Regions from separate parts of the Homo sapiens genome. Here region 1 is linked to region 2. Evidence: fine-mapped expression QTL. A gene starts in region 2. The other region holds a variant in brackets. All regions are shown on one strand. Distances are from middle to middle.

The links. PIP is the estimated chance that this variant, and not a neighbour inherited with it, causes the effect. A credible set is the group of variants that fine-mapping cannot tell apart.
Region 1: its variant is the best candidate, but not a certain one, in a credible set for the expression of PRKAR2B in pancreatic islets (PISA, PIP 0.89).

What each region holds. Positions count from the first base shown.
Region 1 is chr7:106,977,927-106,989,587 of GRCh38, forward strand. No RefSeq gene overlaps it. Among named protein-coding and RNA genes, the nearest start is that of PRKAR2B, 61 kb to the right of the region's middle. RefSeq lists cis regulatory regions at 388-1,059, 1,231-1,544, 1,756-2,155. The variant G/A (reference allele first, on the strand shown) is at 4,743.
Region 2 is chr7:107,038,054-107,049,714 of GRCh38, forward strand. PRKAR2B (protein kinase cAMP-dependent type II regulatory subunit beta) reads left to right here and starts at 6,652. Exons shown (of 11, transcript NM_002736.3): 1 at 6,652-7,161. The coding sequence starts at 6,855. RefSeq lists silencers at 2,705-2,916, 6,405-6,964, 6,751-7,045.

The DNA.
Region 1 (11,661 bases), 60 kb before region 2:
GAGACCAGCCTGGCCAACATAGTGAAACCCCATCTCTACTACAAATACAAAAATTAGCCAGGTGCAGTGGTATGCACCTGTAGTCCCAGCTACTTGGGAGACTGAGGCAGAAGAATCGCTTGAACCCAGGAGGTAGAGGTTGTGGTAAGCCGAGATCGCACCACTGCCCTCCAGTCTGGTCAACAGAGCAAGACTTTGTCTCAAAAAAAAAGAAAGAAAGAAAAGAAAAATATGTTTGGGACAAGAGCCCCATACACAAATTCGTCACAAGAATGCTCAGGTGGCCAGGACATTTGAGTTGGGAAGGACAAAGATTCTAAGGCATTGGTTCTCAAATCCACCACTCCAGGAGACATTTTTGGTTGTCACAAGTGGGAGGAGGATTAAAATGTTAGTGGCATCTCGTGGGGAGAGGCTACGGGTGCTGTTAAACATCCTGCAATGCAGACAACAGCCCTCACAACAAATATCATCCAACCATAATGGCAATAGTGCTGAGGTTGAGAAACTCTGCCCTAAGGTAATGATTTGTCTTCAGAATGCAGTCCTCAGGCCACAGATTAATGCAGATCCTTGATACCCAACCCAGCCTGCTGAATCATATACTCTGTAGGTAACACTAGATGTGTGCATTTTAGAACTCTTCCCAGGTGATGTAAATGCATGCTGAAATTTGAGAGCCATTGAACTGAAACATCAGAATTGAAGGAACTCATTTATATCTACAGAACATCCATTGTGTGTTTAGCAAGGATGCATGTTCAATGATAACAGAGAGAACTTTTACTTTTAAGCTGCAAAATACCGCACAGCCAAAGCAATGGTATCAGAATAGTCCGCCCACAGTCACAGCCTGTTCCAAAAAGATAGGGGGAGTTAGAAAGCAGAAAAACTGTCACCACGTCTTTAGCCTCCGAGTACAGAAAGTCATGTCTTAGACTGCTGATGGCATTTTTAAAAGTTTATCAACATGAAAACCAAAACAGCTACGAAAAATCACAATTTTAAAGGCAACCTATATTCCTCAATGTTGGAAATCCAGGCATTTGTAATTAACATACATAAAATTAAAGAGAATACATTATAGATATCCTTACTACGACCTTTAGTACACCTCATAGCAATTGGAAATTAGTTTAAGCTATATAAAGTCACCTGTTGTGCCAGTTTATTTTGTTATTTTTCATTAGCACCAAAAATATATATTTTAAAGGGAACACGGCCTGGAGCCCTCCCTCCTTTGTGGAGTGTATTAGAAGCTTCTTTTCTCCAGAATTGCTGTTACTCTTGTCTTTCCCTTTGCTGTGTGAAGTCACCACCAGAATGGGCAGCCATTACTGACGGAAGTGTGTCTGACCCCTGGAAAGATCTGAATGCATAGTGGGCCATTGTCCCTAGTGGACGTGAATGGAAAACTCACCCCAGAAGCATCAGCTTAGATAAGTGAGATTTTTTTCCCAGAGCCGATGCAATAAGAATTTCCAGGCTGTAAACCCAGGCAGGTCTGAGAGATGTAGCTTTCTGGGTAGTAAAATCATAGCCTTGTATGCTAGTGTATGTTTTTTTCTGATTTGGAGCATAAAAGGCATCTTTGCAGGGCTAGCAAGGTCATGGAACTCCAGAAAGGCCTCCCTAAAATAAAAGGGAGGCAACGGGGAGCCTTGCCATGCTTCCGTGAACTTATCTTGTTTATATCCTTTTTACTGGTTTTTTTTTTTTTTCCACTGCTTTAGGAGAAAGCCAAAGTAAAACCAGTTACGTCTAGGACACATTGTCATGATTGCCTGTGGCCTGGCTCAGAGTGGGGAAAAGTTTGAGAAATATTGCTTAACCTGGCTGCCGGGGTCATAGGGACCTCTCAGAAGCAGCTTTATTCCCACATGTCCACAGGGGAGCTAAAGCAATCAAAGGCCCCAGGACAGAAGCGACAACCCTCAGGGCCTCTCCCTCCCCTCCCCTCCCAGCATCACCCTTACCGTGTCCTTGGTAATCACAAAGGGTCAGCCAGCCCTGTGTTAGTCCTTGGGACTAGCGTATCCCTCATATCTTCCAAGGCTCTCTACCTCCCTCCCTAAAGATAGAGATTTAGAGCTCGTTCTGCCCAGCTATTTCAAATAGAGGAGGCTGATGTGATAAAACTCACTAATGTGTAAAAAACGTAATGTGTTCCTTCCTTCCAGAAAGTATTTACATTTTAGAAGATGTTAAGAGAGGCAATACTCAATCCAAAGCAATTAATCTCTAAAGGTTAATAGGGATTTTTTTTCTTTCAAATGAAGCAGATCTTAAACCCCTCCAATCATCTTGTGTAGTCAGGCTGCAAACCATTGAGAGAGGGGAGGGGAGGCTTATCAGATCTTGTAAATGCAGGTCAGCTGCTGAGTGGCCAGTTCTTCATCTTTCAGATCCATCAAGAAATGGAGATGCCCTTGCCCTAATTTCTGTTAGAAAACAGAAAAGTTGGATAGCATTCTACCTGGATCCTGTGGCATAAATTCCATTATCTTCAAAAACAACAATGGCAAATTCCCAAAGAGGGTACACACTGAACTGAAAAAGCACTCCGTCATTTCCCATTGCCTTTGCAGGGAATGAGGGGAAGTAGGAGACATTGTATCTCACTCAGCCTCTAGCTGAATCAACTGGCTCTTCGGTAAAGCTGAACTGCTCCTACACAGATATCACAGATATCAGTGGTCTCATTAACTAATTGTACCTCTACTAATAATAACGATGGTTTTAAAGCAGGCTGTTACATAAGGAAAAGGTTTTTCGTTATAATAAATATCAAGTCACAGGTCTGAGAAATGTGGCAAAGTCTTTTCAAAATCACAAAGAAAAGGGACATCAGTGGGAAAAAGCTGATGTCCCTTCAGAGTGGAACCGTGGCTGAAATGGTTCAGCCATGGTTCAGCCTCTCCTGCTCCACCTGGCATTTCCTGCCCTTCAGTTTGCATAGTTCCAGCCAAGATAGGGAAAGGTAGGTTGAACATCCTTAACAGTTGTAGAGGCTCAACAGAGAAGAATCTGGGGTGGCTGGGAGTAGTGAATCAATGACAAATTTTAATCTGGAGCCCGATGACTCATAAGAAAATTTAGCCATTGTGATATTGTTTGGATCTGTGTCCCCATCCAAATCTCATGTTGAATTGTAATCCCCAATGTTGGAAGTAGGGCCTGGTGGGAGGTGATTGGATCATGGGGGCAGATTTCTCACGAATGGTTTAGCACTATCCCCCTTGGTACTGTCCTCTCTATAGTGAGTGAGTTCTCCTGAGATCTGGTCATTTAAAACTGGGTAGCACCTCCCCCCAGCACTCCCTCTTGCTCCTGCTTTTGCTGTGTGACACACCTGCTCCCCCTGCACCTTCTGCCATGATTGTAAGCTTCCTGAGGCCTCCCCAAAAGACAAGCAAAGGTTGGCGCCAGCTTCCTATAAAGCCTGCAGAACCATGAACCAATTAAACCTCTTGTCTTCCTCAATTACCCAGCCTCAGGTATTTCTTTTGTGGGTGTTGTTGTTGTTGTTGTTTGAGACAGAGTATCGCTCTGTCACCCAGGCTGGAGTGCAGTGGCGCAATCTTGGCCCACTGCAATCTCTGCCTCCCAGGTTCAAGCGATTCTCCTGCCTGAGCCTCCCGAGTAGCTGGAAATATAGGCGCATGCCACCATGTCCGGCTAATTTTTTGTATTTTTAGCAGAGATGGGGTTTCACCATGTTAGCCAGGATGGTCTCGATTTCCTGACCTCCTGATCTGCCCGCCTCGGCCTCCCAAAGTGAGGTTTTTTTTTTGTTTTTTTTTTTTTTTTTGAGACAGAGTCTTGCTCTGTTGCCCAGGCTCGAGTGCAGCTGCACGATCTGGGCTCACTGCAAGCTCTGCCTCCCGGGTTGATGCCATTCTCCTGCCTCACCCTCCTGAGTAGCAGGGACTGCAGGTGCCCACCACTATGTCCGGCTAATTTTTTTGTATTTTTAGTAGAGATGGGGTTTCACCGTGTTAGCCAGGATGGTCTCGATCTCCTGACCTCGTGATCCGCCCATCTCGGCCTTCCAAAGTGCTGGGATTACAGGCGTGAGCCACCGCGCCCAAAGTGAGGTATTTCTTTATGCAATGCAAGAACGGCCTAGTACACCATGAGATATAGAATGAGTGCCATGTCTGCCATTAGGGAAACAGGTATAGAGAAAGGACTATTTTAGAAATAAAGAGATGTAGAGTTGTGTCCCAGCTCTATCACTAATTTGCCACTGTCTGAAAGGTAAGCTGTATGTGAGCAGGAATTTTTTTTGTCTCTTTTATCACTGCTGTACACCCCGCACCGGAACAATGTGCGGCACATATTAGACACTCAATACATGTTTGCCAAATGAATACGTGAATGATTGTAGTCTTGGACAAGTCAAATGGCCCTTAGGGACTATTTGTTCATTGATTATTTTCCCACCTGCGTCACAGCATGGCTGCTGTCTTGGAAAGCGTAAACTGCTCATGAGTGGCAGGTGTGAAGAAGAGAGGCTGACGGAGTGAACGGTGGTGAGGCACAGGAGGAAAGTTGCAAGGTGTGAGGCGTGGACGGGGAAGTTGGGTAGCAGGTGGGCTGGGCAGAAGGTGAACGATGGTGGAAGCTAGCTATCAGCAGAGATATTCAGAAGCTGGAAGAAAAAAGGAGGGTTGTAAGCACAACAGCGGCAGCAGCTGGCCAGTGGGAGTTTGTTTAAACAGAGTAGAAAAATTATTTAA[G/A]CCTCATTATTTTCTTCTGACTTCGGCCAAGGGGGTAATGAGGGTTAGCTGTCAGCTGCAAATGAAACCACTGAAGGAGAGAGAGTGCAAAGGGAATTTGAAGAATTAAAGCAGACTGGTCAAAAAAAAAAGCAAGCTGATACTGGACTAGCCATTTTGCCTTCCATTTGAAAGAAGAAAAGAGGGACAGATAGCTCAAATAACAGAAGACAATCTTATCCCCAAATTAGACATCCTGGATTTTCCATGATTATCCTAATTTTGTGTGATTTTATTGTTTTCACTGAAGACATCTTAGCCTGGGTTCTCTCAGAAATAGAGCCTTTGGGCCAGGTGCGATGGTTCACACCTGTAATCCCAGCACTTTCCGAGGCTGAGGCAGGAGGATCACCTGAGGTCAGGAGTTCGAGACCAGCCTGGCCAACATGGTGACACCCCTATCTCTATTAAAAATACAAAACTTAGTTTGGTGGTGCATGCCTGTAATCCCAGCTACTCAGGAGGCTGAGGCAGGAGAATCGCTTGAACCCAGGAGGCAGAGGTTGCAGTGAGCTGAGATTGTGCCACTGCACTTCAGCCTGTGTGATAGAGTGAGACTCTGTCTCAAAAAAACAAAAACAAAACCAGGAGCCTTTGGAACTTGTGAGCAAGTCATTATTCAGAAATGTGATTCCAGGAGCAGTAGTACAGGATAGTGGGAGGAAAACAAAGGAGAGCAAAGCAACACAAGGATGTGTAACTGAGCTGGCCTTTGCCAAGGGCGTCTCATGCTCCATCCTGCCTGGACCTCTCAAAGAGTTGATGAAAAACATCTCTGAACTTTCTGTTTGTTTGTTTGTTTTGAGACAGTCTCGCTCTGTCGCCCATACTGTTTAACACCATACTGTTTAATGACTACATCTTTATAGTATATTTTGAAATCAGAAAGTGTGATGCCTCCAGCTTTGTTCTTGCTCAAGATTGCTTTAGCTATTCATGATCTTCTGTGGGTCCATACAAATTTTAGGGTTGTTTTTTCTATTTCTGTGAAAAATGATAAAGGAATTTCGAAACGGATATCATTGAATCTGTAGATTGCTTTGAGTAACAAATCACACACACACAAAAATACAAAAGTTGTTCAGGAATTCTTACTTGTTCACAAGAAAAACATTGGTTATTGACTGGTTACATTGTTGACCTATCAGGTAAGAGTTCTATTTGGGACTCTATTTGAGTAGTGTGGACATTTTAACGATATTGATTTTTTTAATCCATGATCACATGATATATTTTCATTTATTTGTGTCTTCTATAATTTTATAAATCAACGTTTCATAGTTGTCTGTGTATGATCTTACCCTCTTTGGTTAAATTTATGCATAAGTATGTATGTAAGCATATGTATATACCCAGGCTGGGGTGCGATAGCACGATCTTGGCTGACTGCAACCTCTGCCTCCTGGGTACAAGTGATTCTCATGCCTCAGCCTCCTGAGTAGCTAGAGCATGAAGCACCATTCAGACCTGGCTCCTGTCTGATCTGCCATGTCTTCCCTCTAGGAAATCCAATCTATCACAGAGTTCCCTCAAGGCAATGACTAGTTGCAATCTTTGCAAGGATTTAGTACAAAAGAGTAGTGGGACAAGCCAAAGCTAGTGTCTAGATTGTTGTTGATATGTAATACTTCCTCCCTTTGCACATTAAAACCACCCATGCAGCTTTTAAAAATCCTGATGCCAGCCGGGTGCGGTGGCTCACGCCTCTAATCCCAGCACTTTGGGAGGCGGAGGCAGGCGGATCACGAGATCAAGAGATAGAGACCATCCTGGCCAACATGGTGAAACCCCGTCTCTACTAAAACTACAAAAATTAGCCGGGCGTGGTGGCAGGCACCTGTAATCCCAGCTACTCGGGAGGCTGAGGCAGGAGAATCACTTGAACCCGGGAGGCAGAGGTTGCAGTGAGCCGAGATTGCACCGCTGCACTCCAGCCTGGTGACAGAGCGAGACTCCCTCGCCCGCAAAAAAAAAATCCTGGTGCCTAGGCTATTAACTCAGACAATAAATCAGGGCAGTGATCTAAATTAGAAAATTAACTTTGATAGAATAATACTACCTAATTTACAGGCCTTACTCAAATTTCATCACTTGTCCTCTGTCCCTTTCCTGTCTGGGATCCCATCCTGGGTTATGTGTATTTAGTTGTCCTGTCTCCCTCGTCTCCTTCAGTCTGTAATTGTTGCTCAGTCTTTCTTCATCTTTCATGACCCTGACATTTCTGAAGAGTACTGGTCAGTTATTTTGCAGACTGTTCCTCAATTTGGGTTTATCTGATGATTTCTCATGACTAGATTGAGGTTGTACATTTTTTGTCAAGAACATCACAGAAGGGATGTTGTTCACTTCTCAGTGCATCACAGCATGGTTATGTGATACTGATGGGTCTTCATGGTGATGTTGACCTTGATCACTTCTAGGATTCGCCAGTGTAGAGTTACAATTTTCCCTCTTCATAATGAATAAATATCTTGTGGGGAGATTCTTTGAAATTATGCAAATATCCTGTTTCTCACTGGACTTTGTCCACTAATTCTAGCATTCATTAGTGGTTCTTTCTTGCAACAGTTATTACTATGGTGTTTGCCTAATGTTGAATTTTTATATTATTTATTCCTTCTGCATTTATTAATTGGAAGAGTAATCTAAGGAAGAGCTGTGTGACTTGCCTTTAAACAACAGTGAAAATTTAACAGCCCTCCAAAAAGGGCCTGGTTTGAGGCTTGAACTGGAGAATAAGTGAGAAATAGAACTGTTGGCATGAAAATTAACAAAATTAAATAATTGCTGTGGTTTTCATTAGGGATTGATAATTTTACTTGAGATAGGGAGCAGCTGGAGATGAGGCACCTCTAAACCACCAGAGTGAAATGTGTAGTCAGGGCCGGGTGTGGTGGCTCATGCCTGTAATCCCAGCACTTTAGGAGGCTGAGGCGGGCGGATCACTTGTGGTCAGGAGTTCGAGACCAGCCTGGCCAACATGGAGAAACCCTGTCTCTACTAAAACTACAAAAATTAGCTGGGTGTGGTGGCAGGCACCTGTAATCCCAGCTACTCAGGAGGCTGAGACCAGAGAATCACTTGAGCCCAGGAGGCGGAGACTACAGTGAACTGAGATCACACCACTGTACTCCAGCCTGGGCGACAGAGCGAGACTCCATCTCAAAGAAAAAAAAGTGTAGTCAGGAAGTGTTTTGGATATGAAACATAGCAGAGAAGTGTCTTCTGTATTAAAAAAAAAAGTTGGCAGGATATAAGGGGGCTGGTATGTACCATTCCTGTCAAAAAGAAACACATTTATGCAAATGACTCAAGATTAAGATCTGAAGAAAATAAAGACATAAGGGAACCAGCTGCAGAACAAAGAGTAAAAACTGAGCTGGCTACATCTGCTCAAAGGAAAACATGGAAGTTGATTAAGGTGATTATAAGGGAGACAGACATTGGAGGGCTGTTGAGGAGAGACTTTGGAAGAAAAGAGGAAATAAAGATTGTGGGTCACAGTTGGTCAATACAACCAAGGAAACCAGGAATATTAGCTAGAGATGGAAAAATCCTGAACCAAGACAAGAAGAGAGACAGGTCCTGCAGAAGAGTCTGGCAGTCCCGATTCAGACCAAGGGCCTCGTCACACAGGGGCCTGGAAAGAAAGGAGTCCAAGGGCAGGAAGGAAAGGGAAAAGAACAAATTTAGTATATAGGGCATATTAGCCATGATTCTTTCAGTTACAATGACAGTAACTCAACTCAAACTACCTTAAGCACAAAAAGAGACATTTCCAACTTCCAAACTGGGAAGTTCTCTGTAAGAACTGGCTGAGGGTTGCCAGCCCCCAAAACTTAGAGTCATAAGGCCTCTGTCTCTCCCTCTCCTCCCCACCCTATCCCACAACCTCTCCATTCTTTCTTTTGTGTATTGGCCTTACTGCTTCCCATCTCAGATGGGCTTCCTCTTTGCAGGCAGGGAAGATGGCTGCCTCTATCACAAAACTTTCATTATCTCAGCTTAGCAGCCCTGGCAGAAAGATTGACTATTTTCAGCCACATCTGCCTGTCACTGCCAAAGAAGAATTCTGATTGGCCCTCCTTGGATTCCAGGCCCACACTTTGAAACAGTCACTGCTGCTAAAGGAATGAAGAACCACAGGATTGTCCCTGCTTGGGTCAAATGCCCATCTCTATGCCCTGGCAACTGAGTGGGACCAGGAATAATGAAACCATGTAGAATGGTAGTTCCCCAGAGTAAGGAAATGTGTTGTTACCAGAATAAGGGAGGGAAGGCATGCTATGCACACCAACAGATGCTCACTATTGAAGACTCCTATGAATAATTTCTGGAAATAATAATAGTCCATTTTTCTTTCTTTCTTTCTTTCTTTTTGAGATGGAGTCTCACTCTGTCACCCAGGCTGGAGTGCAGTGGCACGATCTCGGCTCACTGCAAGTTCTACCTCCTGGGTTCAGTGGTCCAGAATAGGGAAGAGTGTACAAGATGTTATTGCACTAGAAATAAGAATAGATAGACCTTCAGCCATGTTTTTCCTTGGATTTACCTCACCTCAAATTAATTGCAATAGTCCAAAAATGGAAGGAAACAAAAACACTAACACTAAACCAGAGCACCCTATGACACACGTAGGTGGCTTGGGTGACATGTGTATCTTTATAATCAACCTGAGAGCATGAGAAGAGGGAATATCTATCCAAAGCTTTTGCAGACATTTACAGTGGTGAAGACAGGCCAAGTATTACCACTCTTCTAGGAAATCAGCTGCTTGAAGACTGCTTCAGAAAGTGCAATTCAGGGCTGGGTGCAGTGGCTCATGCCTGTAATCCCAGCACTTTGGGAGGCCGAGGTAGGCAGATCACCTGAGGTCAGAAGTTCGAGACCAGCCTGGCCAACATGGTGAAACTTTGTCTCTACTAAAAATACAAAAAAATTAGCCAGGCGTGGTGGGGGGTGACTGTAGTCCCAGCTACTGGGGAGGCTGAGGCAGGAGAATTGCTTGAACCCAGGAGGCAGAGGTTGCAGTGAGCTGAGATTGCGCCACTGAACTCCGGCCTGGGTGACAGAGCGAGACTCCATTTCAAAAGAAAAAAAAAAGTACAATTCAGAAGAGTCAGCCCAGGAGCCTGTCAGCTGGGCAGCAGTGGCCCCAGGAGGTTCTTCCTCAGCTGTCATTCTCTGGAAACTGCCCTCTGCCTTTACCACCAGTGGCTTAGAACCCCATTACTCTTTGCCCCTAGTAGTATGTTGCAAGATAACTCAGATGTACACGTGCCCTCTATCTCTCCATGCTGTTTCCACAGTTTTGAACTTGCACCCAATTTGCCCTTGCGTTTGTCATCTGTAAATTTCCCTTGGTATTTTCTCTGTCTCCTCTAGCCCCAAGGCCTCTTTGACCTCCTTATGGGCCATTACATTTTCTACAAAGGCCCAGAGGAATGTTTGGGTAGTCACACTACATTCTGCCAAGCATACAACTCTTCACATTAGCAATTTGCTGTGAGAAAGACCTTTAAACTTTCATTCGGTCCAGTCTTTTACCCTTTTCTTTTCTGAATATAGACATTAGGGCTGAGACTGAGCATAACCTGTGTCTTTTCTCAACCTATTTCATTATAAATGAAGAATGTCCCATTTAATGACATCTAGAGGCATTTCTCACATTCAGCTATGTTCAGCAACCCTCAGAGAAAATTCCATTATATTCTGTTCTAATTCCATATGTTAAAGTGTGTCTGCTATTTATTGAATCAGAGATTTCTGGCAGCATTCCAATATCTTTTCTCCCCTTTTTATAATGATAGAACCTTTTTTTGGTAGACATTTGCATGGAGGTTGGGTATAAAGACTGCATTGTTAGCCAGGTGCAGTGGTGTACACTTGTAGTCCCAGCTACTCAGGAGGCTGAGAAGGGAGGATTGCTTAAGCCCAGGAGTTCAAGCCCAGCCTGAGTAACATAGCAAGATCCCATGTCGAAAAAAATAATAATAAAGATTGCATTGTTCAGCCTCCCTTACAGTTAAGTGTGGCCACGTCACTAAGAGCTGGTCAATTGCATGTGATGGGAAGTAAAATGTTTAACTTTTGGGATGTGTCATAATGAAAGGGGCATTCCCATCATGCCTCCATTTTCTTTTTTCCTTTTTTTTTCTTTTCTTTTTTTTTTTTTTGAGACAGAGTCTCACTCTGTCACCAGGCTGGAGTGCAGTGGCATGATCTCGGCTCACTACAACCTCCACCTCCTGGACTCAAGTGATTCTCCTGCCTCAGCCTCCTGAATAGCTGGGATTACAGGCATGTGCCACCATGCCTGACTAATTTTTGTATTTTTAGTAGATATGGGGTTTCACTATGTTGGTCAGGCCGTTCTCAAACTCCTGACCTCATGATCTGCCCACCTTGGCCTCCCAAAGTGCTGGGATTACAGGCATGAGCCACCGTGCCCGGCCCCATGCCTCCATTTTCTATCCTGCTGCTTGGAACATGGAGATGGATATGATGGTGCACCATACTGGACCATGGAGGTAAGGGCAATATGCTAAGTATTATAGAATAATAAGAAGACACTTGGATTCCTGAGTGATCTCATGAAATAAAACCTCCACACCATCTCTCTTACCATCTACTTCTTACTGTAACATAAGAAAGAATTAAATTTTCATCTTATTTAAAACAGTTATTTGGAGTATCTATTACATGTAGCAGAACCTATATAATAATATATACATTTTTATTTCTGCACCTGAGTTTTATATTTTTTATTAATTATATTATTATTATCTTTGAGACAGAGTCTTACTCTGTTGCCTAAGCTGAAGTGCAGTGGCGATGCTGCGGGATAATGAAGGAATCAGAGAGACCGAGGGGTTGAGGA
Region 2 (11,661 bases):
CTTACCAGCCCTCCAGAGACACCTGGTGTCTTCAGACTCTGTGCTCTGTAATACAGATGTGATCTTGCTTCTTGTTGGCTTGCTCTCACTGACCCTTCACCCAGGCTTAGGTTCCAGCATTCTTCAGTTTGCTGTTAGTTCCAAAATTCTAGTAGACAACTCTCATCTGTTCTTGTCTCTTTTCCTATTCTTTTTTTTAATTAAAGAATTAATTTTTTTAAAATTTGTGATAAAGTACACATAACATGAAGTTTACTATCTTTATCGTTTTAAGTGTACAGTTTAGCGGTGTTATATATATTCACACTGTTGTGCAACCAGTTCCAGAACTTTTTCATCTTGCAAAACCAAAGCTCTTTACCCATTAAACAGCTTCCCATTCTCCCCTCCCCAGTCAGCCACTGGCAACCACCATTCTACTTTCTCTTTCTATAAATTTTGACTTTTCTAGATACTTCATATAAGTGGAATCATGCAGTGTTTGTCTTTTTGTGACTGACATTTCACTTAGCATAATGTCTTCTAGCATGTGTCAGAAATTCCTTCCTTTTAAGGCTGAATAATCAAAAAAAATTAAAATTATTTTAAATTTGTATTGTGGTTCTCCTGTTCTTTTTGTTGTTTGAGTTTTCCTGTGTTCCTTTAGCCATTATTTTAGTGGAGTAGAGATAAACTTCTGTGTCCAACGTGGTCCTTAATAGAAAACCCATATTCTGTTTATGAAATATGTTTAAGGACATATTCTTTGTTGCTTTTTAAGAATCTCTTTAACTTTGCAAGATTCCTTAAAGGAGAATAATGAGTATACATTTCGTCCTGATTTAGCCAAAGAAAAACTTATGCGTTGATATTAAGCAAAAAAAGTTGCTTCAAGCAGCTTCCTATTCAGCATGAACATAAGCTCTTCCTTAGTGAATCTAGCATAGTGGATCTCAAAGTGTGGTCCCGAGACCTACAGCCTAAGTATCACCTGAGTATTTGATAGACGTGCAAATTCTCGGGCCCCACCTCAGACTTACTGAATCTGAAACTCTGGGGGTGGGGCCCAGCAACTGTGTTTTAAGTAGCCCTCCAGGTGATTCAGATGCTTGGTAAAATTTGAGAATCACTAGTTTTCTAGCGGCAACCCTTTTGCGAAGTTGCACATAGAGATTAAACATTTTACTTACTTTTAGTCCAAATGTCTGTAAGATTTTCAGGCTATGAGGTGACCATCTTTTAGCAGGCATGTTGTGAAGTATCTGTACCACCTCTATAACATTGGGACTGTTCCCAATATTCGGGACTTTCCTCTGCTGAAGAGGCAGGCCTTATCATGTATTTATACTACCTGACCACTTCCTTATCTGGCACCCTACTGGCCACACTTACTAGACCAGTCAAGGCCAGGCAATCTACTAGATGGTCAAGACCAACTAACCTGATTCTCTCTTGAGAATATGAATCAGAGACACCAAAACTGTAGTCAGTGTTGAAATGCTAAAGGTACGTAAAACTGAGGCTGATGATCACAGTCAGCCTTGGGCAAGAACAGGCCCTGTATCCTCTCAATTGCCTCCTTTTTTTTCCTTGAGTGGGTATATATTTCTTGCACTCCAGAGACTTGATCAGGAAACACCTTAACTATTGACAGGAAATGCTGCATGATTGATTGGTCATAGTTATTATTCTGTACTGCTTGCCCAAGCCATTGACTTTGTTTTTTTGGCAGTTACATATAAGCAAGTTGATGGGTCTGTTTAATTTCCTGGTGTGAAAACAAATTTGATAGCACTCTTTTCATTTCAATGCTGAGCTCTCAGAGTTCATTTGCCATTGCTTCCAGTCTGATTCTCTGAGAAACTGGTGCAAATTGCTTTGCAAATCCACAACCAAAGAATCAGTATCAGTGATGCTCTTTTAAGGAATATGAGATACATAGTTCCCATAAGCCACTGTTCAAAAGGCTCAAAATGAAATATTCTGAAAATGAAAGCAAAAGAAATCATAAAATATTACCAAAAAGGTTATGTGGTAGTGAATAAAAGCCAGAATATGATTTGAGAAGTGAACATTTGTTCTGAGAACAATGCTAATGTAATGGGAATATCAGGACCAAGCTTTACTTTTTCAGGTCATGGTTATTGATTTAAGAACTGATGCAAATGAAAATTACCAAAGAGCTGTTTGCAAAGATGTTTCAAGTCCAATAAGTCTTGTTTTAGTATTATACTATTGTAAATCTCTCAGGATGAAAAAGACTATATAGGTCATCTAATCCAATTACGCATTTCATGCTTGAAATCATTGCTATATTCTTAAAGAAATGAGAACCACACAACCTTGGCATTGTGGTTGATGACAGAGAGCTATCTACCATGCTTCATATAATAAATCTACAAGAAGAAATAAATGAATTTGGAAACACAAAATGGCATTAACAAGATATGGCTCTTAATAATGTTTGGAAAAGTAGTGCTTTTTTTAATTTTGTCATTCCTAGGGAAAAGGTATTAGACATTGTGGCAGAGATTGATAATTATCTCCAGACTTTTTTTTTTTTTTTTTTTTTTTGAGACAAGGTCTTACTCTATCACCCAGGCCGGAGTACAGTGGCACAACCACAGCTCACTGCAGCCTTGACCTCCCTGGGCTCAGGCGCTTATCCCACCTCAGCCTCCCGAACAGTTACGACCACATGTATACCACCAAGCCTGGCCAATTTTTGTATTTTTTTATAGAGATGGAGTCTCCCTATGTTGCCCAGGCTGGTCTCGAACCCCTGGGCTCAAGCGATCCACCCTCTTTGGCCCTCCAAAGTGTTGGGATTACAGGAGTGAGCCACTGTGCCCGTCCAGACTTGGTTCTTTTTAATTCCCAAATGTTTACTTGGCACGTGACTGCTCAAAATAAATATTACATTTCCAAACTTTCCTAATAGCCATTGGTTTCAGTTGCTATTGCTGTGTAACAGATTATCTCAAAACCTAGAGGCCTACAACAACCTTTTTATTATGCTCACAGATTCTGTGGAACAAGGCTTCAGCCAGGGCATCCAGTACAGGGCTGGCTTCTTCTATCATGCTGACTTGACTTTTACAATGTTCTATTGGTCAAAGAAATCACAAGCACATTCAGATTCAAGGGGAGGGGAAATAAGACTTCAATTCATTAGTGAGTAGTGGCCACGCCACACTGTAGGAGATATTGTTGTAGCCGTCTTTGGAAAATGCAATTTGCCACACCAAAGGTGTGGCCATGTTGACTAAGTTCTAGCCAAGAGGATAGAAGAGGAATTGTGTTTAACTTCCTAGAAGGAAGGGAGGGGAGGGGAGCTTCCCTTCTCTTTTTCACTTTCCTCTTAGCTAAAATATGACTGGCCCTGGAGCAGCCATTTTGGACCACAGACAGGATCATAGAGCAATGAGCTGGAGGGAGCCTGGGTCCCTGATGATCATGGAGTACCACACTGTGTCCGGAATTGGTGGGTTCTTGGTCTCACTGACTTCAAGAATGAAGCCGCAGACCCTCGCGGTGAGTGTTACGGTTCTTAAAAGTGGCGTGTCCAGAGTTTGTTCCTTCTGATGTTCGGATGTGTTCGGAGTTTCTTCCTTCTGGTGGGTTCGTGGTCTCACTGGCTCAGGAGTGAAGCTGCGGACCTTCGCGGTGAGTGTTACAGCTCTTAAGGCGGCGCATCTGGAGTTCCTCCCGGTGGGCTCGTGGTCTCGCTGGCTTCAGGAGTGAAGCTGCAGACCTTCATGGTGAGTGTTACAGCTCATAAAGGCAGTGTGGACGCAAAGAGTGAGCAGTAGCAAGATTTATTGCAAAGAGCAAAAGAACAAAGCTTCCACACTGTGGAAGGGGACCCGAGCTGGTTGCCACCACTGGCTCAGGCAGCCTCCTTTTATTCTCTTATCTGGCCCCACACACATCCTGCTGATTGGTAGAGCCCAGTGGTCTGTTTTGACAGGGCACTGATTGGTGTGTTTACAATCCCTGAGCTAGACACAAAGGTTCTCCATGTCCCACCAGATTAGCTAGATACAGAGGGTCCACACAAAGGATCTCCACGTCCCCACCAGAATAGCTAGATACAGAGTGGCGATTAGTGCATTCACAAACCCTGAGCTAGACACAGGGTGCTGATTGGTGTGTTTACAAACCTTGAGCTAGATACATAGTGCCGATTGGTGTATTTACAATCCCTTAGCTAGACACAAAGGTTCTCCACGTCCCCACCAGACTCAGGAGCCCAGCTGGCTTCACCCAGTGGATCCCGCACTGGGGCTGCAGGTGGAGCTGCCTGCCAGTCCCGCGCTGTGCGCCTGCGCTCCTCAGCCCTTGGGTGGTCGATGGGACTGGGCGCCGTGAAGCAGGGGGCGGCGGTCGTCGGGGAGGCTCGGGCCGCACAGGAGCCCACGGAGTGGGGGGGAGGCTCAGGCATGGCGGGCTGCAGGTCCCGAGCCCTGCCCCGCGGGAAGGCAGCTAAGGCCTGCGAGAAATTGAGCACAGCAGCTGCTAGCCCAGGTGCTAAGCCCCTGACTGCCCGGGGCCGGTGGGTCCGGCCGGCCGCTCCGAGTGCGGGGTCTGCCGAGCCCACGCCCACCCGGAACTCGCGCTGGCCCACAAGCACCACGCGCAGCCCCAGTTCCCGTCCGCGCCTCTCCCTCCACACCTCCCCGCAAGCTGAGGGAGCTGGCTCAGGCCTTGGCCAGCCCAGAAAGGGGCTCCCACAGTGCAGCGGCAGGCTGAAGGGCTCCTCAAGCGCTGCCAAAGTGGGAGCCCAGGTAGAGGAGGCGCCAAGAGCGAGTGCGGGCTGTGAGGACTGCCAGCACGCTATCACCTCTCAATACCAACTCTGAACTGCCCACATTTAGATTCCAGAGAAATAAATCTTAAGCTATTGTATTTCGCATTTTCTGCCACATGTGAGCAGTGTTTATCATAATTAATACAAATATTATCACAAATTTAGACAGGTGATACACATGCATCTTAGATTACCAGATCCGTAAAAATAATAATGCTTACACGGTAGAGAGTAGTACTAACATTGTGCTCCAACCGGTGACATGTGAGGCTCACCATATTTTATAAAAGTTTAATTCTTTTTTTTTTTTTTTGAGACGAAGTCTCACTCTTGTCCCCCAGCCTGGAGTGCAACGGCACTGCACGATCTCGGTTGACTGCAACCTCCGCCTCCTGGATTCAAGCGATTCTTCTGCCTAAGCCTCCTGAGTAGCTGGGATTACAGGTGCCTGCCACCATGCCCGCTAATTTTTGTATTTTTAGTAGAGATGGGGTTTCACCATGTTGGCCAGGCTGGTCTTGAACTCCTGACCTCAGGTGATCCGCCCACCTCGGCCTCTCAAAGTGTTGGGATTACAGGCATGAGTGAGCCACTGCGCCCGGCCAAAAGTTTAATTCTTAAAATGCTCGACACAATTAGAAGCACTTAACTACTGTATATTTAAAGCAACGTAACATTATTACTATAAAGTTGTTAAGAAATGAAAATAGAGAAATACATTGGCTCATGGAGTCAATACAGGATGCATCATTAACAAAGGGTTAACATCAAGATCCATTTTTACAAGAGGGACTAGTTCGTTACATCTCTGATTTCTAGACTTGGAGTTTCCCCAGTCATGTGTTTACTCTTCCGTGGGTGGGAAGATAAATCAGAATAACCAAGTGAGCTTGCTCTTGAAATATTTTATTTACAATGATATGATAATTGTAGAAAATGAAGTATGCGTACTTAAATAGAATTTAATTGACAAAAGACAATTTTCTCTACTTCAAAATTGTAAACATTTGCAAAGTAAGCCTCATTTCAAAGTCAAAGCCTTCTACTTTAAAAGCACACATTAGTAATTCTATTTTTCTTTATACTGAAGTATTTCAATTTTTGGACATACAAGTCAAAAATCATTCAAAGCATAAAGGAAAGTTTCAAAATAATAAGCGCCTCATCCTGCACTATCCTATTTAAAAGAGATCAACTAACTTTGATAGGTGCCTCTCAATAAATGGTGCCTTTGTCTCAATAAATAGTAAATGCGTGGAGTGCACAACGGAATAGCATCAGTAAGACGAAACATAATAAACAGGATGGATCGGGAAAGGCTGGATAAAATGTGGGGAAGAAAAAGAAAGACGTCACAAAGATGGGGTAGCATTTCTTTGTCCAAAAGAGAACCAGTACCACCATAAGACTTTAAACAAAGGACATTAGCAACACTTATCATGCAACTAGATTCTAGAAGGAAAATAAAATGCCACTACTAAGGTGGAGGCTGAAGTTTCAAGACAAATCTCCTGGCACCACCTCTGCGGGGGTTCACCATGGCGAATGACGCCTGGGAAGCGGGGCGAGTGGCCAGCCCGCTCCTGGACGCGCGGACAGGTGGACACGAAGGCGGCCTCGCTGGGCCTCCCTCCGCCTCTCCCGGCCCGGGCGCGCAGCCCTGCGGTGGTCTGACAGGCGGGTGCGCGGCGCCAGCCAGCGGAGGTTGCCATGGTTTCCGGGGGTCACGTGGGCGCGCTCTCCTGCGCCCCCTCCCGCGCACCGCGGCGGGGCGGGGGCGGGGCGCCCGGGCGGGGGAGAGGCGCGGCCGCGGCTGGAGCGGGAGGAGCAGGAGATGCTGCCAGCCCTCCCGGGGCCGCGCTCGCTCAGCCGCCGCCACCACACGGAGCAGACGCGCGCCGGGAGCCGCGGGCCGGGCCAGCCGGGCCGCCGGGGCCCAGTGCGCCGCGCTCGCAGCCGGTAGCGCGCCAGCGCCGTAGGCGCTCGCTCGGCAGCCGCGGGGCCCTAGGCCGTGCCGGGGAGGGGGCGAGGGCGGCGCCCAGGCGCCTGCCGCCCCGGAGGCAGGATGAGCATCGAGATCCCGGCGGGACTGACGGAGCTGCTGCAGGGCTTCACGGTGGAGGTGCTGAGGCACCAGCCCGCGGACCTGCTGGAGTTCGCGCTGCAGCACTTCACCCGCCTGCAGCAGGAGAACGAGCGCAAAGGCACCGCGCGCTTCGGCCATGAGGGCAGGACCTGGGGGGACCTGGGCGCCGCTGCCGGGGGCGGCACCCCCAGCAAGGGGGTCAACTTCGCCGAGGAGCCCATGCAGTCCGACTCCGAGGACGGGGAGGAGGAGGAGGCGGCGCCCGCGGACGCAGGGGCGTTCAATGGTGAGGACCAGACCCCCCACTTCGCGCCCCCGGATCCCCTCGCTGCCCCCCACCGCTCCCCGCTGTGCTCTCGGATCTTGCCGCTTTGCGCACCCACCTCTCCCCGCATTCTCCACCTTTCCCTACCTTCCCATCTCGCCCACCCCCTCAGCATCCATTTCTGTCTCTCCCACTCGCCCACCTTCCTACTCCGCTCTCTGTCATACCCTCTTCCCTTCCTCTAGAGGTGGGAGAGCTGGGATGTTACGCTTCCCTCTTACCCTTTGCCCCCTCTGCCTGGGCCGGTTGGGGTGGGCATCTGCTAGAAAGACAACTTTCGCTGTGGTTGGAGGTATTTCGCTTAGAGGATACCATTGTGCATAAAGAAACTGGCCCGCTTGGCGTCTTCTTTCAGCCCTTGTATTTATTAATGGAATGTCGAAAGAGAAAAGGAGAACCGTGTTTAATATGATTGGCTTTACTGTTGTTAGGACGGTAGATTCGCTAAAAGAAGCATGAAATTGGACTCACTGGGGCAGAACAAAATTTATGGCCAGTAGCTCTGACATTCTTGGAAATAAGAGTTATCTATTATTTTCCAATTTACCAATACCGTGTTGTGTTATTTTTGGACACGTAACAAAGGATTCTATTTAGTCTGAAACCCACGGGGGTCTTTGGAACGAGGAAATGGGTTAATGGTTTGCTTTTTATATAAAAGACATATTGAATGATTTGGTGCTTTATTTTTTTAAAAGTGTATGAGAAAAACACTGTAGGAAGTTCTGAAAGCTTGTTGGTTGTCTTTAGAATGAAAAGCCAGTGAGTAATTGTAAGGATTGTGCCAGACAGTAGAGCTAGAAAGAATGAATGGGAAAGAAAAAGGAATTTTCTCAAATAGCTGCTCCTGGCAAGTCCCACCCCTTCTGCTTACAACCCTCTTTCCCTAACACACCCAGACACACACCCTCATTTACAGCCCCTTGTATTACACAACATGCCCAAATCTCATTTTTATGGCAACCCAAGCTAAAATACCATGGAGTGCAGTGTGCAAGTGTTTTCTCTTTGTGGTGTAAGGCAAACATGCATGCAGCATTGCACCAGCTTTTATTTATTTACACTGCTTGTGGTTTGTGTGTCCGCAGTGTATTTCATAAAATGAAAACATTTAAAAGTGTCATTTCATTTCCTTGTGTATGCTCCTAGGAAGATGTTTCTTTTCTTTGCAGGATTACATGTTGAAATGGATTATAAAATTAGTGTATTTTTAGTTTCTCCAAAAGAATCCCAGAAACCCTGGAAATTAGTGCGCTGTGAAGATAAAAGTGAAGCTTGTTACTTACAATTTTAATTTTGGACTTCTAAATGTTTCCCCAAGAGGATAAACATAGTCTTAATAATTCTTTTTGCACAAGAATCGAATCAAAAGCTTTTCCTACCAGAAACGAGAAAGAGAAAAGAATGCATGTTTTAAATAGGTAAGAAGCAGCAGCCAGTAACGGATGACAGAAAGGGCAGAGATATCTAATACTTCTTTTATGCTCCTGACATGTTCGTGCACACACACAAAGGGGAAAAAAAGGACTCTTTTCCCAGGTTGGAGAAAACTAGGAACTAAGGGGCTTGGTAAAGACCATATATATATATATATTCTGTATGATATGTTGTTAATATAATCAAAATATTTTGTTTGTATAATGCATTTGTTGAAGTACTTTGCATTGATGATTGCATTTTCTCCTTATAACAATATATTGCGCACAGAAAAGATTCCATTTTCATTTTGTAGTGAAGAAATAAGCCGTTAACTTCTGAACAGCAGGGGTCATTTTATATGGCTTTATATTCTCCAAGGCACCTTTGCTGTAAAAATTGCTCAGTGTGACTTAAACAAGTTAAACTTGTTAAACAATTGCACTATTTACTCCCTAGCCTCACCCCCAAGGACTTTAAAACTTTTTGACTGCAACCAAATACAATTTGATCATTATCCAGGAGGCACATACATCTGTATAACAGAAACTTTGGCAATAGTACAGGTACTTCCTTCTGTCAGATGCAGTGCTTTTTGATATTTCCTATTTGAATCAGTTATTTCTCCCTATTTTAAATTGTATTGAGACCTCCAGTTGAAAAACATTTAATTATAGGCTACAAAGTGATTGGCAAGGTTTCTTGTAAAGGGCCGGTTAGTAAGTGTTTTAGACTTAGGGCAACATGTGGTCTTGATCACTTCTTCTTCAGTTTTTTTTTTTAAACACATACACCTTCTGAGGGTTGCGGTTGTACAAAATTAGCTGCAGATCAAGGCCATAGCTTGCCGACCCCTGGTTAGAAGAAAAAAAAAAAAGTCAAAATAGTACCATTGGGGGAAAAAACAGGAGTGATCCTAAAAAGTATGAGCCTATCAGTTTGACATCTATGTCCAGAAATGTGTCTCATTAGAAAAGAACCCCAGATACTGGGCAATTCTGGCATAGTAAAGAATAAGGATTGGAAAACAAGTCTTAATTTACTATGACACAGCACAAGACCTGCTGGGTCAGTAATTCTGAAATTTTCATAGATATCTCAAGGAAGTTTGATTCAGAAATGACCATTACCCTGTACCATTTTTGGAGAGCTTTTTTAAATAGGTTGAGATGGGACATGATATCCTTTTCTTCCCCCTCAGTAGACATCCCACCCAGGTCATTCTGATATCAATAGTTCCATGACTGTACTTTGGAAAACATTAACAGATAGTGATAATACTATATTCTTCTTAACATTTAAAACATAATTGCCGTTAGTTGACAATTGCTGTGTGCTGTCTAAATGCTTTAATTTTTTTGTCTCAGCTTTATGAGAACGATAAGGCCATCACTTGCCCAGTGTTTCACGTGAGCTGCAAAATCAAGATTGGGATACAGGTGGACCTGGCTTCATCCCTGTGCTCTTGACTGCCCGATTCTATCTCCAGATGGGGCTGGGGCTAGCATAACCTGAGTATCCCTTATATGTCAAGCTCTATTTGGGACCCTTAATGTGTTTTATTGTTAAAGCTCTGAAAAATTAACTTGTCCAAGGTCACACATAAAACGAGTAAGTAGGGAAGCCTGATTTCTTACTCTTATGTATCTAACCTTGAAGCCCAGGATGATCAGGGAGTTCTTAAATGGAATTTGTTCTGTGGGCTGACTCACAAGTCAGGTTTTCCTGTTTTTTTTTCTTTTAGTAATGCTGATGGATTTGCATTGTTGGTTCATATCCTCTCTTGTGAATGTCTTTAACGTAAGTGATGGTATTTATGAGAGGTTGGAGTTAAAAGGCAAGTTTTTGACCATGCAACTTGTGCCCATTGACAAACGTAGGACAAACGTAGGGATCAAGCATGTGACCTTGACCTTATAATGTGGTGGTTTAATCAAATAAGCCAGGCACCTGCAGTTAGCTGGAAAAAATGTTGTCTGGCCAGGGGTCGGTGATTTTTGAGGGTCAGGTGGTGTGGCTGTAGGTGGCGCTAGAGCAAACAGTCAGATGGGTGAAGGTCATCTTCTTTCCTACCTTTCCAAAGGATCCCTTCCTCTTCTAATAGCTTTCTTTTCCCTCTCCTATTCTCTTCCAGTCTTATAAATTCTAATTGTTACTTTCCATTTGCTATCAATTCTGGTCGAAAGAGCAAGCTTTAGATGTTAGAATGATAGTGGCTTATGGTGACCCTTTCTAGGGAAACTCTCAAAGGCCAGAAAGAAGCCATAATGGAAACCTCTTGGCATCTACTCTGTCTCCCTCTTCCCCGTCCTAGAGAAAGCAAATACAGTTTGACATGTCATGTCTGAAAGGGTAGCATCCCTAGGCCTTGAATTTCTTAGAAGGTTTACGGTAGGCTATAGCATTGCATCAGTACTAGTTTGGAGTAAAATCTGTGGTAATTCATGATTTTATATAGGCATCATCAAGAGATCTTGTGTTGCCCCATAATTTCTTCAGTGGAATTGCTGAAACAAAAAATGAAGTAAATACCATTCAGATTACTCTGATAAATGGACAAGTGGTCAGAAACAAAATTAACTACACATGGGCACATGCAGAGCAGTCAACCTGGGAGAAAAAATAACTACCGTGATAGAAAATAAAGAGCTGATTTTCTGAGTTATAGAAGAAAAAGATCTAGAGTTCAAAGTAGATACACATACCAAAAATATAGACTCATACCCCATAAGACAAGCATATCAAAAGTAATAAATAGAAATTTACCATGTAATAACTGTGGCTTAATCCTCTTAACTCTGTCCCATGTCCAGTCTTGTTGGAATCTTACCTACCTTTTGGTTTTTACAGTTCAAAGGGAATTTGGAGAATTTACAAAACATCCTTAAGGTCAAGCAAAATATTGTAAAGTTTATATCATTGATATAAAATCTTACAGAGTTATATACTTTTTTTTTTGCAGAATAGCAATTTCATTGTGTTTTATGGAAATGAATCCAGTATTGCACTTCTTGGCGAGGTGAAGCAGGGAATGAGCTTATGTGG